Linked DNA regions of Homo sapiens. The protein of the gene in region 2 interacts with the protein of the main gene of each other region in a pairwise test. Each region holds a gene or a part of one and is shown on either strand. Other genes may lie near its edges.

Region 1 (8,000 bases), on a different chromosome or scaffold from region 2:
GGGCGTTCAGTCCTTCCAGCCCGACGCAGGCTTATCCAGGGTGATGGTCCCCAGGATACACAAGAAGAGACCAGGGTTCACAGAGGCCAAGGGCTCTTGGCAAGCAGGGGCTGAACTGGGATCTGACACCCACCAGGCTCCATGGCCCATGCGCCTGACTGTTAACACTTCACGGGGACGCCTGCCAGCCCCAGCAGCCTGGACTCAGACCCAGGGCACACCACTCAGGCTCCAGGGAGGCCCAGTGGGGTGACACCAGCACATGGAGGTTCTATGACTGCGGCAGCCGCTCTGAGACGGTGCCTGGTGCCACCATCATCCCCACCCACCCCCGCCAAGTCCTGTGCCTCCAGTCCCCTGACCCCACCTCACACCCCATCCGTGGCCACCCTCGCCCTCCTGCCCCACCACCTACCGTGACCATCTGGCCGGCGCGCAGGATGTACTTGGGCGTGAACTTGTAGGCGATCTCCTCCCCCTCCAAGACCTGCCTCTTGATTCTCCAGTTCCCCAGAGACTGATCCTGGAAGACACGGCACACACCTGACCCTCAGCCACCAGGACTGTGACACCGCCCCCATCGCCCTGGCTGGTGGCCCCATCACCCTGACCCTGGTCACCCCCACCAGCTAGGTCACCCCATTACCCCCATGCCCTGGTCATTCCAGTCACCTTGTCCCCTGCCTCGTCCTGACCGGCGGCCCTGTCACCCTGACCCTGGTCACCCCCATCAGCTAGGTCACTCCATTACCCCTGTGCCCCGGTCTTTCCAGTCATCTTGTCCCCTGCCTCGCATTGGCCGGCAGCCCCGTCACCCTGACCCTGGTCACCCCATCAGCTGGGTCACCCCGTTACCCCCATGCCCCGGTCTTTCCGGTCACCTTGTCCCCTGCCTCGCATTGGCCGGCGGCCCCGTCACCCTGACCCTGGTCACCCCATCAGCTGGGTCACCCCGTTACCCCCATGCCCCGGTCTTTCCGGTCACCTTGTCCCCTGCCTCGCATTGGCCGGCGGCCCCGTCACCCTGACCCTGATCACCCCCATCAGCTGGGTCACCCCGTTACCCCCATGCCCCGGTCATTCCAGTCACCTTGTCCCCTGCCTCGCATTGGCCGGCGGCCCCGTCACCCTGATCCTGGTCACCCCCATCAGCTGGGTCACCCCGTTACCCCCATGCCCCGGTCTTTCCGGTCACCTTGTCCCCTGCCTCGTATTGGCCGGCGGCCCCGTCACCCTGACCCTGATCACCCCCATCAGCTGGGTCACCCCGTTACCCCCATGCCCCGGTCATTCCGGTCACCTTGTCCCCTGCCTCGTATTGGCCGGCGGCCCCGTCACCCTGACCCTGATCACCCCCATCAGCTGGGTCACCCCGTTACCCCCATGCCCCAGTCATTCCGGTCACCTTGTCCCCTGCCTCGCATTGGCCGACAGCCCCGTCACCCTGACCCTGGTCACCCCCATCAGCTGGGTCACCCCGTTACCCCCATGCCCCGGTCATTCCGGTCACCTTGTCCCCTGCCTCGCATTGGCCGACGGCCCCGTCACCCTGACCCTGGTCACCCCCATCAGCTGGGTCACCCCGTTACCCCCATGCCCCGGTCATTCCGGTCACCTTGTCCCCTGCCTCGTATTGGCCGGCGGCCCCGTCACCCTGACCCTGATCACCCCCATCAGCTGGGTCACCCCGTTACCCCCATGCCCCGGTCATTCCGGTCACCTTGTCCCCTGCCTCGCATTGGCCGGCAGCCCCGTCACCCTGACCCTGGTCACCCCCATCAGCTGGGTCACCCCGTTACCCCCATGCCCCGGTCTTTCCGGTCACCTTGTCCGAGTTGTTCTTGAGCTGCACAAACTTGCCCTCCAGGTCGATCTCCTCGATGCTGACGCTACCCGAGGCCGAGGCCTGCTGGGCCAGGTGGAAGCCACCGCTGCCACCCGTGCCCGTGCCCAGGACGCTTGGGCCGCTGCCCAAGGGCTCCTCCACCTCCAGCCGCTTCCGCTTACTGCGGCCCAGGCGCCCGGTGGCGGACAAGCTGCCGCTGCTGCTCGAGGTGGCTCGTGAGACGGTGACGCGCGAGGATGGGCTGGGGGACAGCTTCAGCCTGTGGGGAAGGCAAGGAAGGTGGGACTGGTAGTGGGAGCCCCAGACAGCCCAGGGCACGCAGAGTGGCGGCCACGGCCCGGCCCCACCTCCACCCCTGCCCAGCACTCCCCGCAGCCCCGTCCCGCCTCTCCTCCTGCCCTGCCCCTCCTCCTCACTCTGTGCTCCCAAGCCTCCTGGCCTGCCGCACCTCTCCTCCTCGCCCTCCAGGAGCTTCCGGTAGGCGTTGATCTCCATGTCCAGGGCCAGCTTCACGTCCAGCAGCTCCTGGTACTCGGCCAGCTGCTGCTGCATCACGTCCCGCATCTCCGTCATCTCCTGCTCCTTGGCGTCCAGCATCTTCCGGAACTTGTCCCGCTCCCCGGCCATGGCCTCCTCCAGCTCCCGAATGCGATCTTCAGCGGCACTGGCCTGCGGAGGGGGCGGGTGGCGAAGGTCAGGGCAGCCCATGGGTCACAAGGCCCAGGTGATCCTGGGACTGCGGGAGATGGGCCCTCACCACAGACTGGGGCAGAGACCAGGCCTGGGCATGGGGCGCACGGGAGGGGAGGGAAGGGGCATCGCTGGGCGCCCCGAGGGCTGCATCCGATGCCAAGAGGCCAGAGCCCCACGCCCCGCACATCCAGGGCAGGGCCCAGAAGTTGGGCCAGGGGGACGGCAGACGGTGGCGCTGTGCTCATCACCTGCTTCTGGAGGCCGGAGAGCTGGTAGCTGAGGGACTCCAGGCGCATGCGGGCCTCCTTCAGCTCCTCGCGAGCCGCACTGGCCGCCTTGTCGTTCTGGTCAGAGCTCAGCTTGGCGCTGTCCAGCTGTGGGGAGACGGGCGGGTGAGTGCGGGCGCGGGGCGGGGCGGGGTTCCCACCGGCCGCCCCCGCCCACCCGCCTGCCGGCCACACCTTGGCCTGGTAGGTCTGCTCCAGCTCCAGCTTGTAGAGCCGCACTTGCTCGTCGTGCTGGCTCCGCAGCTCCTCCAGCGCCTGTGCCATCTTGAAGTCGTACTCCTGCTGCCGGCTGCTGTCCACCTCCACCAGGCGCCGCTCGTGCCGCCGCCGCGTCTCCCGCACCTCCTGCGGACCAAGGCTTCGTGACCCTCTGGTCCCGCCTGGGCCCCAAGCACCAGGCCCAAGGGAGGGCTCAAAAATGTGCCAAGAGGAACCTCCAGGCAATTCCTGGTTCCTTGTGCACAAGTTACAAACCGATACACGTGCAGGTGAGAGGCGACCCAGGGGCCGTCCACGCGCTAGAACGTGACTCAGCCACGAAAAGGAGCGAGGCTCTGACACCGCCACAGCATGGATGCACCTTGAGGACGTCACACTCAATGAGAGACGCCAGACACAAAAGGCCACACGGTGCGTGATCCCATTTCCATGAAATGTCCTGAAATGTCCAGGACAGGCCCATCCACAGAGACAGGGAGGGGATGCGTGGGGGCCAGGGCTGGGGACTGCTGATGGGGAGGGGGTTCTTTTTGGGTGATGGAATGTTCTAGAATTAGAGGTGGTGGTTGCACAACCCTGTGGAGATCCTGCCAATGCTGAACTGTACACTTTAAAAAGGTGGACTTAAAATAGCCAGGTGTGGTGGCGGGCACCTGTGGTCCCAGCTACTCAGGAGGCTGAGACAAGAGAATCGCTTGACCTTGGGAGGTTGCAGTGAGCCAGGATCGCACCATTGCACTCCAACCTGGGTAACAAAGTGAGACTGCGTCTCAAAAAAAAAAAAAGTGACTCTCTCTTATAAAAGCCATTATTGAAGAAAGCGGGCCAGGCGTGGTGGCTCATGCCTGTAATCCCAGCACTTTGGGAGGCTGAGGCAGGCAGATCACGAGGTCAGGAGTTCGAGACCAGCCTAGCCAACATGGTGAAACCCCATCTCTATTAAAAATACAAAAATTAGGCCGGGCACAGTGGCTCAAGCCTGTAATCCCAGCACTTTGGGAGGCTAAGACAGGTGGATCATGAGGTCAGAAGTTCAAGACCAGCCTGACAAACATGGTGAAAACCCCGTCTGTACTAAAAATACAAAAATTAGTCGGGTTGGTGGCACCCGCCTATAATCCCAGCTACTCAGGAGGCTGAGGCAGGAGAATCGCTTGAACCCAGGAGGCGGAGGTTGCAGTGAGCTGAGATCATGCCACCGTACTCCAGCCTGGGTGACAGAGCAAGACTCCGTCTCAAAAGAAAAAAATTAGCTGGGTGTGGTGCTGTGCACCTATAATCCCAGCTACTCGGGAGGCTGGGCCCAGTGTGGGCAACAGAGCAAGACTCCATCTCAAAAACAAAACAAAACAAAACAAAACAAAACAAAAACAGTAGAAACGCTTCTGAAGGAAGCTGGCCACCTTTGCAGTCAGCAAGGCGGGTAGCCCAGGCAAGCAGAGCCCTGCGGGCCGCGCACCCACCTCCACGGCCGCCCTCCCGCCTCCACGGCCGCGCACCCGCCTGCACAGCCGCCCTCCCGCCTTCACGGCTGCGCACCCACCTCCACGGCCGCTCACCCACCTGCACTGCCGCCCTCCCACCCCCACAGCCGCGCACCCACCTCCACGGCCGCCCTCTCGCCTCCACGGCCACCCTCCCGCCACCACGGCCGCGCACCCACCTCCACGGCCGCCCTCCCGCCACCACAGCCGCGCACCCACCTCCACGGCCGCCCTTCCGCCCCCACGGCCGCCCTCTCCAGGACTCCGCACCCTGTGGGCTGCACAGGCCTGCATCATCAAGCTCCCTACCGCAGCTCCCTGTGAGGGCCCCTCCAGGGCCTCTTCCCGGCCCCTGCACCGCCTTCGTGGGTCTTTTCCCAGGTGCCCTGTGGGTTCCACCTGGGGCACGTTCCTGGGCCCCCGCACAGAAGCTCTCGTGAGTCTCTTCACGGGCTGTCTCACAGGTTTCCCCACAGGCCCCTTCACAACTGCCCTGGCGGCCTCCCCTCTGGCTCCTGTGGGGCCCCCCCCACTCCCTGGGCCTGGCCAGAGCGGGGCGCAGCTCCTGAGCGGCCTGGACATCCCTCCACCAGCAGCCAGCAGCTCTCCCTGGGCAGGGAGTGTGGGCCCGGCCGGCCCCGGCATTCCACCCTGCACTGTGACAGCACAATTGGTTCTAAAGGACACAGGCTGACGCCTTTCCTCCCCACTCCCCTCTCCGAGCCCCCGGAGGCAGAGGCCCCAGGTGAGGGGCTGCAGGTCAGGGAAGGAGGCTGGGTGGGGAGAGCGGGCCTCACCCTCGCTTTGGACAAGGAGGCCCTGTGGGAGGCTGGACGGTGGCACCCAGAAGATGCACCTGACGCCTGCCTCATGGTCTAGCAGTTAGGATCCCAGGCGGCCAGGGTTCAGCTCTCAGGGTGGGAACACCAAGCTTTTAGAAAGGCAAGAAATCAAAATAGACCTTCCTTGACACTGAAGAGATATGTTTTGGCTGGGCATGGTGACTCACGCCTGGAATCCCAGCAGTTTGGGAGGCCGAGGCGGATGAAGCACCTGAGGTCAGGAGTTCGAGACCAGCCTGGCCAACGTGGTGAAACCTCGTCTCTACTAAAAATACATAAATTACCTGGGCATGGTGGTGCACGCCTATAATCCAGCTACTCGGGAGGCTGAGGCAGGAGAATTGCTTGAACCTGGGAGGCGGAGGTTGCAGTGAGCCAAGATCGTGCCACCGCACTCCAGCATGGGTGACAGAGTGAAACTCCATCTCAAAAAAAGACGTGCCCACATCCCGATCCCCAGCAGCTGTGAATGGACCTTATTTGGAAATGGGGTCTCTGCAGATGCCATTAGGTCACTCTGGATGATCCAGGCAGGCCCCAAATCCAATGACAAGTGTCCTTGTAGGATACACAGAGTATGGACACAGGGGAGGCAGCCGCGGGAAGACAGAGGCAGACACTGGGGAGACGCAGCCGAAGCCAAGGGCACCCTAAGAGGCAGGAAGGAGCCTCCCTAGAGCCGTGGGAGGGACCCCGGCCACACGGTGCCCTCAGGCTTCCGCCCTCCACAGCCATGAGGGTGGACTTTGCGTTTCCGCTGTGCCAGGCTGGAGGCCAGGCCACTCACTCACCTCCTCGAACACACTCTTCCGGAAGTCCAGCTCCTCCTGCAGGCTCTGGCAGCGGTTCTCCAGGTCCACACGCATCAGCGTCTCCTTCTCCAGCTGCTTTTTGGCCACTGCATGACCGTCCTCGGCCTGGGAGACACAGGACAGCGAGCTGGTGTGACAATCTGTCTGTTGCATATACCCTGCTGGGGCGTCCCGTGGCTCCTGGCACCTACCTTGGCCAGCTGGGCCCGCAGCTCAGCCACGTCACTCTCCAGGCCGCGCTTGTCGCTGAGGGCAGCTGCCAGCTCCACCTCGCTCCGGTGGAACAGGGACTCCAGGTCCTTCACACGGCCCTGGGCCACCGTAAGCTCGCCCTCCCTCTTCTTGGCGCTGAAAGTCAAGAGGGCAAGTGAGTGGGGAGGGGCAAGGTCCATGGGGCCACAGGGAGCACCTCAGGGGGCGTCAGGCAAGCCCAAAGACAAGGTCACCGAGGCCTCCGAGCCCCAGACCTTCCCGTCCTGCAGACGACGCGGCCCCACGCGCCCAGGCAAAGGCACACGTGCCCTCATCATCTGCCCTGCACTGTCAGGAGTCCAGCAAGTGACAGGCACCAGCGCTTGGGACCACCCTGGAGGCATGGGCTTTCCCAGCCTCTCCTGCCTGTTCTGGACCCAGGACGACCATTTGGGGAGAAATTAATGCATCCTCTGTAAATGTTACAAAGACCCTGGCCTTTGAAGGGTCAGCCTTGTTTGTAAACTTAAGCTGTCTGAAGCAGGCTCACCTGGTTTTCCACTAAACCAAATTAGCTCCAACATTAGATATTTAAGATAGCAAATACTCAGGCTTTTTAAACACACAAATACTACCAGTGTGGATTGTAGGCACTTAAGCTTTTTTTTTTTTTTTTTTTTTTTTTTTTTTAAGAGACAGGGGTTCACTTGTTTGCACAGGCTGGTCTCGAACTCCTGGGCTCAAGGAATCCTCCTGTCTCAGCCTCCCAAAGTGCTGGGATTACAGGTGCGAGCCACCGCGTACGGCTGACTCTTAAATGTTTTTAAGCATAATTATAAGTCTTGGAGCTGAATTTTACCCCCTCCCGACAGGGAACTAACTATATCCTCCCAAGAAACAGTGAGGACACCCAGGGTTCCGCAGCGTCACAACTGCTGACATCTGGGGTGGTCTTGAGTGAGGGCACCCAGGGTTCTGCAGCGTCACAACTGCTGACATTTGGGGTGGTCGAGTGAGGACATCCAGGGTTCCGCAGCGTCACAACTGCTGACATTTGGGGTGGTCCTAGGCACTGCAGGGTGCTGAGCACTGTCCCTGGCCTCCACCCACTTCAGACCAGGAGCTTCTTGCTGCCCAGTTTTGACAACCACAAGTGTCCCCAGGAATCACCCAGTGTCCCCTGGGGACAGAATCACCCCAGGATGGGGACAACTGGGTGTATCTGGAATAACACAGCCAAGGCTGCTGGCTGGACATTCAAAGAACATCCACATCCAGGCGGCTCGAGCCCGTGGCCAGAGGTCAGAAGTGACAGGGACCTCTCCTGCCCAGCAGAATGCACTCCCGACTCTCCCTAGAGCCTTTTTTTTTTTTTGAGTTGGAGTTTCGCTCTTGTTGCCCAGGCTGGATTGCAATGGCGTGATCTCGGCTCACTGCAACCTCCGCCTCCCGGGTTCAAACAATTCTCCTGCCTCAGCCTCCTGTGTAGCTGGGATTACAGGCATGCGCCACCAGCGTCCGCTAATTTTTTATTTTTAGTAGAGATGGGGTTTCTCCATGTTGGCCAGGCTGGTCTCGAACTCCCAACCTCAGGTGATCTGCCCGCCTCGGCCTCCAAAGTGCTG
Region 2 (8,744 bases):
TCCAATTTAGCAAAGATGGCTGGATCCAGAGAAGATGTGAGGACAGAGAAGGAGAAACAAGAGAAGTATGTAGGAAGAACTGCAAAACTCCCTATTAAGTGAGACTATAAGAGCAACAAATATGTATGATTCTCAGTGATCAGGAGCAAGGAAAAGGAAATGGGCAAAAGGAAAAAAAAGAGGTGACTGAGGACCTCTGAAATGTGCATCAGTATTTTAACAGAACCACATTGCCCAATACAAGATTCCTGGTCAGTGCACTCAAGTAGAACGGCCATCTTGTTAAAAACAGCCACTATTGTTCTGGCTAGAAGAGAACCCCAACATTAAGGATCTACCACATAAGACCTTCTGGTAGTTCTTTTTTTTTTCTTTTTTTGAGACAGTCTCGCTGTGTCACCCAGGCTGGAGTGCAGTGGCACAATCTCAAACCACTGTCTGCCTCCAGGGTTCAAGCGATTCTCCTGCCTCAGCCTCCCGAATAGCTGGGACTATAGGTGCATACCACCACACTTGGGTAATTTTTGTATTTTTAGTAGAGATGGGGTTTCACCATGTTGGCCAGGCTGGTCTCGATTTCCTGACCTTGTGATCTGCCCGCCTCGGCCTCCCAAAGTGCTGGGATTACAGGCATGAACCACTGCACCCGGCCCTGATAGCAGTTCTTTTGCCACCGTAGCTCTCTCAAGAAGGCAGGGACCCCAGGTGAGGGCAAAGAGTTGATTTAAATGCTCTTGGACCAGTTTTCTTAGGGCATAATCCAGAATTAGCTAGGACTAACTCAGGTGTCTTATATTTACAACAAATATCTAGACAGGATCAGCATTTCCACAAGGACTGAATGAAAGGGTCTATGATAAAAACTTGTTTCTTGAAATATTCCAGAAATTAGTATGCCAGGACCCTCAAGTTTTTCCCTATTATAGGGGATAAGAGTGGTTTCAAAGGAGACTGTTCCGACCAGGAGGTCCCATCCCTGACACACCAGTACTTGGGAGACTCAACAGGAACGAACTGAAGTCTTGTTGCTTTTAAAGAACTAGAAAGGTAAGCTTCCCATCTGCCCAGCACTCAGAGGGTTTGGGTGGTATCCACATAACAGAATGCTGACTGGGCAGCTATTTAGCCCTGAAACAATCGCCTAGAGCAGAACCCACCTGTGTTGGATGGAGTAAAGCCTGGCAAGGAGGGGCTGTTGAGGCCCGGGAGCAACACAGGAGGAATGCCCTGGAGCGCTGGATATGCTGTAGGAAGGTTAAGGGCCTGAAGAGGGGTGTTGTCAAACATCCCTTGCTGCTGAGCTGCCAGTCCAAGGACCTCGTTGGCCTTTTTAATCCGGTCCAACTCTTGTTGAGCCATCAACTGACGTACGGTGGCTGGGTCAAAGTATTCTTTCTCCTTGTCCAGCTGGCTTCCAATGGTGTCTTTAACTTTGGAGATATGCTGTTGGGAAAAGATATGGTCACGTACAGACAGCCGAGCGCTGTACTTGATGCCACACAAAGTGCACTCTGTTTTGGGTCCCTCATAACTCGTTTGGTTTATACCAAAATGCTTGGCCATGCTTAACTTGGACTTCTTTTCTTTTGCCCGGGCATTCTGGAACCAGACCTGAACGACTCTCTTTGGCAGTCCAATGTCATTGCCCAGGACCTCACATTCTAGCATAGTGGGTGTCCTGTAGTCATTAAAGCATGACTTGAGGACCTTCAGCTGCAGATTGGTCATTTGAGTGCGAAAACGTTTCTGCCCAGGCCGATCTCCGCTGTCACCAGATTTGCCTGCAGATCCACTCGCACCAGGACTCGGGGAGCAGGGATCTGCAAGGCTTGAGGTTTCACTGTAGTCCACTGTACCTTCATTGTCATATTCCTTGCTATAAAAGCTCGGGGCCGGGCTGACCAGACCAGATGACAACCGATCTTCATACTCAGACATTGCCATCATGGCCGCTTTGGTCAACCCTTCGTTGGGTGCAGAAGAGGATTTGGTTTCAGTTGCTATTCCCGTTGCACTGTCGTTATCTGCGTTGCCCTCGTCTCCAGTTGTGGTATCTGTGATTGCTGTGTTGACAGAGGAACAGTCATCGTTGTCCAGCTTAGTTTGGTCAAAGTTTAGATTAACTGAGGACATGGAGGGGCTTTCAAAGTCTTCAATCCCTTCCACCTTAATGGAGGAAGGGCTTAGAAGAGTTCTGGGTGACAATTCCATGGTTTTACTCACAGGTGAGAGGGGGACACCCTGACCATCACTACTGCTTGGGGGTAGGTGGGAAAAGCTAGTTCCGTCAAAAATATCTCCTTTCATCTGGAGTCCCCCATCACAGTCTAAGAGCATCGCAGACAGAGTTAGGTTGTAGCCAGCTCTCTTGGCTTCATGCCAGTGACGGGACCGGATATGAGCCTCAAGAGCAGTCTTGGCTTTGAAGAGCGCTCTGCAAAAAGGGCATCTCCTGTGGGCCTGCGCTGGGCCTACAGCCCGGAACTGTCCTTTCCTTTCCCGAGCTCGGGTGTTCTGAAACCAGACTTGTACCACACGTTTCTTCAAGCCCACCTCGTGTGCAATGTGATCCAACATCTTTCGAGTCGGATTGGAATCCAGTAGATACTTCTGGTAGAGAATTTCTAGTTGTTCCGGTGTGATGGTTGTTCTCAAACGCTTGTCTCTCTGAGGCTCTTCTCCTCCTGTCCCACTGTCGTTTTCGCCAGGGCTTGCACTGGCCTTTTCCTCCAGCTTCCTCTTGAGAGTGTTCATTGTGGAGGTTGGAGTTGAAGGAGAAGTGGCTGAGCTTGCTGGAATCTGAGGTATGGCCCCAGAGAGCAGCTGGCTGGCCAGGAGTGGGTTACTGGGATCAAAGAGCATGAAAGGCATATCCAGGGACCTGTCCAAAAACTGGGGGTGGATGAACTGGTTCTGCGCGCTCAGGAAGTGGAGCTGCTGATGCTCCTGCCAGTGCTCAAATGACGGAAATGCCAACTTACACTGGTCACACTGGTAGGGGATTAGCTGAGGAGGTAGGTTTGCGAGCTGTTGAGGAGTTGATGTGTGGAGGGGCTTGAGGGGCAGGTGGGAGAGCTGGGAAGGACTGGGGCTCGACTGGGGTAAGGGGCACTGTGGAGGGGGCGCTTGTGGAGGAGGCTGTGGCAACGAAGGCAGGGACACCAGCTGGGGGAGCTTCTGCTGGGGAGTGTTGGTCTTCTGCTCGGGCTGCTCTTGCTGCTGCAGCTCTGGCTTTGGTTGTCCTTGCTTTTCTTGGGTTTGGTTTGGCTGTGCACTGGGAGCTTCCGCCAGCTTTGGTTTCTCATCGCCTGCCTCTGTTTTTGAATTGAAGGTGGCCAGTTCCTCAGCCTCCGCTGTAAGCTGCAAGAAAGCGGAGGAAGCTGTATTATTGGCTGATGGTGCTGGGGCGCTGTAAGCCTGTGAGGGCATCGGGGTACTGCAGGATGAGCTGGTAGGCGTCAGGATTTCCATGGCATCCATGGAATCCTCATTTTGGCTGTCGTCCTGCCCCTCCTCATCCTCATCCTTGTAACACAGCTTCTTCTGGTGCTTGATGAGATCAAAGATGCGCTGAAACACCAGGCTACATTTTTTGCACTGGTAGTTCAAGTTGCTTGTTCGAATGTATCTATCATTTGTAAGCTCACGCCGCTCTCCATCTTTGCCCTCTCCCTGATTCTCATAATTCTTCCTGGCCTTCTGTCGGGCATTCTGAAACCACACCACTATCACTCGGGTTGGAAGGTTCAGTAAATTAGAGAGTTGCTCAAATTCATCATCCTTTGGGTAAGCATTGGCATCGAAGAAGTCCTGTAAGACCCTCAGCTGGTAGTCCGTAAACCTTGTTCTTGAAGACCTCTTGCTTCCCCAGTACTCCTGCTTTGGAGGTTCCGGCGAAGGGGGCCGGGAGTCAATCTTGAGCTCCTCCAGGCTGGTGATAGGAGGATTACTGAAGTTGTAAGGGGAGTCCTTGTTACGCTGCCTCTCTTTGAAGAGAGTGTTCCTGAACCAGTGCTTGATCACTTTCTGGGGCAACCCGGACTTGTCTGCCATCTCTTTTATTTGCTCTTCACTGGGGGAGTTGTTAATGTCAAAATATTGCCGCAAGACTCGGAGCTGATCATCTGTGATCCTGGTGCGAGGCCTCTTGTTCTGCTGCTGGAGCAGGGTTGGATTGAGCTGATGCTGGTAGAGTTGGGCCAGGTCCGCAGGCAGAGGCTCCACAGGTCCCAGCTGCGGGGGTAGCTGAGCCGGCAAGGTCTGCAGCGGCATCGTCTGCATCATCAGCGGCGAGAAGATGGGCAGCTCCATCGGCATGGAGAGCTGGGTGAGCGGCACTGATGGCTGGGCCGGTGCAATTGTAGGTGAGGTGATGGGTGGGGCTGATGCGGGGATGGCTGGTGTGGACGCCGGCTGAGGCGGCGCTGCCGGAAGTGGGGGTGGAGGGGGTGGAGGGGGAGGTGGTGGTGGCTCTGGGGTCTGGGGCCTCAGTGGGTACAGTTTATCGTAGTGGTCTCTGTACTGTTTGGCAAACCTCTCGAGCTGTTTGAAAGGAAAGTAATTCTGATGAACGTGCTCTTGATGACTCTTTAAAATCAAGATGTTGGAAAACAACTTGCCGCAGGAGTCACACTCGAGCTTTTCCAGGTTCTCTCCCTGGTCAGTCTTCCCATTCTTTTTCTGCACCTTCTGCTTGTTCTCATTATACTGGATGACCAACTCAAAGCCAAAGTTCTCCAGCAGGGCCTTGGTGGCGTTCCCTCTGGCATCTGAAGCAATGCGTGGAGGGAGCATGGAAGGCTCAGAACCACCCCCTGGTGCCAACTCTTTCTTCTCTTTGGCCTTCAAGGCATCTGGCAGTGTTTCCTTCGGACCGGTGTTGCCCTCTCCCCCCTCGGCGCTGTCCCTCTCTCTCTGGCTTTCTTTTTCCTTTTCTTTGATGACCAATTTGTTCTTCTTTTCGGGGTGCTGGCTTGGCTGAAGGAGGGCAGAGTGACTCTGGGCTATAGAGAGTTGGTTCTGCTGCTGCTGCGGCAAGATCTGCTGATGGCTCTGCTGTGGGACCTGAACCTGAGCCTTCAGATCTTCCAGCAGGCCTGGGCCTGTCCCAGTCAGTGTCAGTGCCCCACTGGTCACTGGCAAGCTCACCTCGGGGTTAAGCTGGAACTCAGCACTGGGGATGTAGAAAGGGAAGAGGAGGTGCTGCTGCTGCTGTAGTTGCAGCAGGGTCTCAGTTGTCATGGGGAAGTGAGGAAGGAGGGTGGGGTTAAACAGCTGAGACTGGATCAGGGCAGCCTGTTGCTGCAGCTCCTGCTGCAGGTGAGCTTGAACTTGAGCCTGGGCCTGGGCCAGCGTTTGTGCTTGTTGTTGTTGTTGTTGTTGTTGTTGTTGCTGTTGCTGCTGCTGTTGTTGCTGCTGCCTGGATGCAATCATATCTGCCAGTTTCTTCCGATTGGCCTCTTTGGGCTCTGAAGGGGAAGCAATGTTGGCACCAATAGGATTCCCCAGGGGTGGCATCCCTACACTCTCAGTGGGCACTTGGCTTAGTAAGTTAGAGCTTGGAGCAATGCCAGCACTGCTTGGATTGGAGGTGGTAAAGGTGTTACTGCCACTGGTGCTCACAGGACTTGGCGTGGAGGAGCTCAAGGAAATACTGCTGCTGTTCCCAGTCCCATTGCTGCTGCCACTTGCAGCCTCCAGCTTGGCTGCCCGGGCCTTGGTTTGATGTAACACAGACCTCATATGGATCTCCAGAGTGGAACTCTGGCTGTAGGCCACATTACAAGTGTTACACTTAAAAGGTTTGTTGTCTGGGCTGCTGGTGGGTTCTGGCTGACCGGTTGCTGATTCTTGAAGGGCTCTCTTTAACTTATGCAGGTGGGAGACAGAATTGTAGTGTACTAGCAGGATATTCTTTTGAGTGAAAGATTCCTTGCAGACGGTACACTTGTAAGGGCGAGAAGGGTCTAGGAACTTTTCCATAGTAAAATTGGGACCTTTTCTGAAAGGCAGAGCTCTCTTTGGCTCTGAGCCCGAGTCTTCTTGTACTGACCCAGAGTCACTGCCCGTTGGGCTCTGTTTATCTTCCAAGTCACTCTCTTCCTCCTTGTCTTCCTCAACAATTATGGTATGGTCCTCTGCCAGAGTGGGGTCTCCCATTGCCAGGAGGTCCCCATTGGCCAGCAGGCCACCATAAAGCTGTTGGATGTCAGCCTCACTCAGCTCCAGGTGGCTTGTCTCAAGGTGCTTCTTCAGAGCCTGGAAAGTTCGGAAACTGCGCTGACAAAGACAGCACATGGTGGCAGCTCTGATCACATGGTACTGAGAATGGAGCTGCAACTTTTCAATGGTCTTGAAGGCCAGGCTACACTGATTACAGCGGTACTTGTACACATGGCGATCTGACACCGGCAGCTGAGGCCTCTTGGCATGCACTTCATTAAAATGCGTCTGAAGGGCAGCAGAAGTTTTGAAAACCTGGTTGCACCCCTTCTTCCAGCAGATGAAGCCTGAGTCTTCTCTCACAGAGCCTGGGTCAGCAGGGGATGGTTTCAAATCTCCGCTTTGCTCTGTGCTTGCGGATGGCAAGATGTTCTTTCCCAGATCCTCTGAGGTTTCTGTTAAAAAAAAAAAAAAAATCAAACCCAAAGATAAAGAAGGCTTTGTTTCAAGGATGGCACCCAGAGCGGTCTACCTAGTCAGGCCTCATGAACACAGAATCTGATGATGAGGGAAGTGCCCAACCTGAATGACAGAATCTCTGCGGAGCGCCTCCTGCTTTCTTTTGTTCCTCCAATAGAGCACATATTATAAACAGGGTGCACATGAACAGAGATGGATAAAAGGAAATACAAAAAGTTTCAATGCATAATAGACCCATGTCATATCACAGATCTAACAGTCTTTTAAATAGCATTTAATTGCTTGACTCAGAATCCTCAATTTCTCAAGAGCTGGTTTGAAGGTTACTGATCTTAGACTGGATTTCCCTTTTATGTTCATCTTTTATGTAATAAGCATTTAGCACAGTAGATCTGAAGTGTAGAATATGTGAATTAATGCTGTCCTAAGTTGTGAGGAATTTACAAGAACTGCTGAACATCGTAATATAAGAAATTTGGGGATACATATTTTTAGGCATTTAATTTCTTGTTATAATGTGACTTCTGATTGCCATCTCTATTCAATAAGCAATTAACATTCAAGTGTTCAATTATTTAAAATACATTTTTTTCCCTACAATGAGATCATCACACTCATAAATACCGAGACCCTTTAACAGGTCATTTGTCCATTGTCTAATATGGAAAACTCACAAGAAAGAGAGAAGGCAGGACAGTAGTGTGGCCAAACTCTTCCCAACTTAGAACTCTTCCCACCTTAGAGGTGAACGATGTAGGACAGCCTCACAGAGGTCTAACCATTCATCTAGCCAGGAAACACTATGTGGCACCAACTACTGTCTACAACAATGTTCTTTCCATCAGCATCTCTGTGCTTCATCCTAAGCCAATCCCAAAAAACTCAGAACGAAAGACAACTAATCCAGTGTACCTAAAAATCAACCCACAAGTCCCTACTAATTAAGTCCTCAGAAATACAGTGTTTAATGGCTTAGAATGGTAGGGCCTACTGACTGAGTCTCTGGTTATTCACTCCCTAATTGTATAGTTTAAGAAGATGTGTGTGTCTGTGCCAGAATTCCACTGGTTCTCATACTAATTTTCTCTCACTTTAAACCATGTGAGTAATATACAAATACATGCCAAGAAGCAGAGTATAAAGTAGCTGATGACAGTGCCCCTCATCTCCTGATCAGTTACATTCACCTTAAGAGTATTGTAAAGAATTCCTGAAAACCTTTCTCCATGAACATTTTGGCATTCCATCTTGTTTCAATTTCTTGGGGTCAAGAATAATGATACTGACCAGGCTGCTTTCCTGCCTCTTCCAAATTGGAATTCCCATCTCGATCTGGAACAGCTGCTGGGAGGAACATGCTGCTTGGCATCACCATCTCAGGGGTGGTCACCTGAGGAGCAAGAGCAAGGAGAGTCAAATGGAGAGGAAAGCGACACAAAATAGGAAATGTTTAAAAATTATTTAATAAGCAAAATTAGCCTTCACCAGTGTAAAGCTAGAGGTGTCTCACTTTTCATAGCTCACTGAAGATTCATGTTTATTAGACAAAGCTCACATCAGTCAAAAGTGTTTCTACGGTTACATTCTGGACATAATTAGCAGTGCACACTTGAAGAATAATCTTCTTATTAATATTTTTCCTTTATGCAGAATTTTGACTTTGATCACTGACAATGTTTTGTCATGGGCTGTGAAACTTCTTGTGCAACCAATTAGGTAGATAAGTTGAAAGGCCCACCTTAAGCTGCTGAAAACATAATAAGGGCCCTAATTAAATCATACCTAGTAAAGTACACTGTAATCTTGAAGCAGGGAGCATTGTAGTACTGTTTTCAGAACGTATTCAGGCAAGAGGAGGAGGGGAGTAAGAGTGAAGGAAAGGGTAAGAAGAAAAGAAGAGAACAAAGGGAAGGCTAGGGACACGCAGACATGCTGGCAGATTTTCCAGGAAAACAACATTTGTAACCCTTTACAAGCTGACATCAAGCACAAACAAGCCTTTTTTTGTGACTCACTTAAGCCACGATTTCTTCTGGAGTCTCTGCCCAAGGTATACAACATCAGAGGGAACTTCTGACCAACGTCCCAGCGATAGAGGGTGG

The links. Proteins that work in one complex are often made in the same cells at the same time.
Region 1: the proteins of ZFHX3 (region 2) and LMNB2 interact in binary tests that used the Homo sapiens proteins (3 or more experiments, as listed by UniProt).

What each region holds. Positions count from the first base shown.
Region 1 is NC_000019.10:2,432,001-2,440,000, forward strand, and holds part of LMNB2 (lamin-B2), read right to left. Parts: intron 6,532-8,000; coding exon 6,375-6,531; intron 6,289-6,374; coding exon 6,163-6,288; intron 3,172-6,162; coding exon 3,001-3,171; exon of another isoform or gene 2,914-3,000; coding exon 2,788-2,913; intron 2,516-2,787; coding exon 2,295-2,515; intron 2,106-2,294; coding exon 1,826-2,105; intron 524-1,825; coding exon 416-523; intron 1-415. UniProt on the Homo sapiens protein: Lamins are intermediate filament proteins that assemble into a filamentous meshwork, and which constitute the major components of the nuclear lamina, a fibrous layer on the nucleoplasmic side of the inner nuclear membrane.
Region 2 is NC_000016.10:72,792,098-72,800,841, forward strand, and holds part of ZFHX3 (zinc finger homeobox protein 3), read right to left. Parts: intron 8,033-8,744; coding exon 7,930-8,032; intron 6,618-7,929; coding exon 1,158-6,617; intron 1-1,157.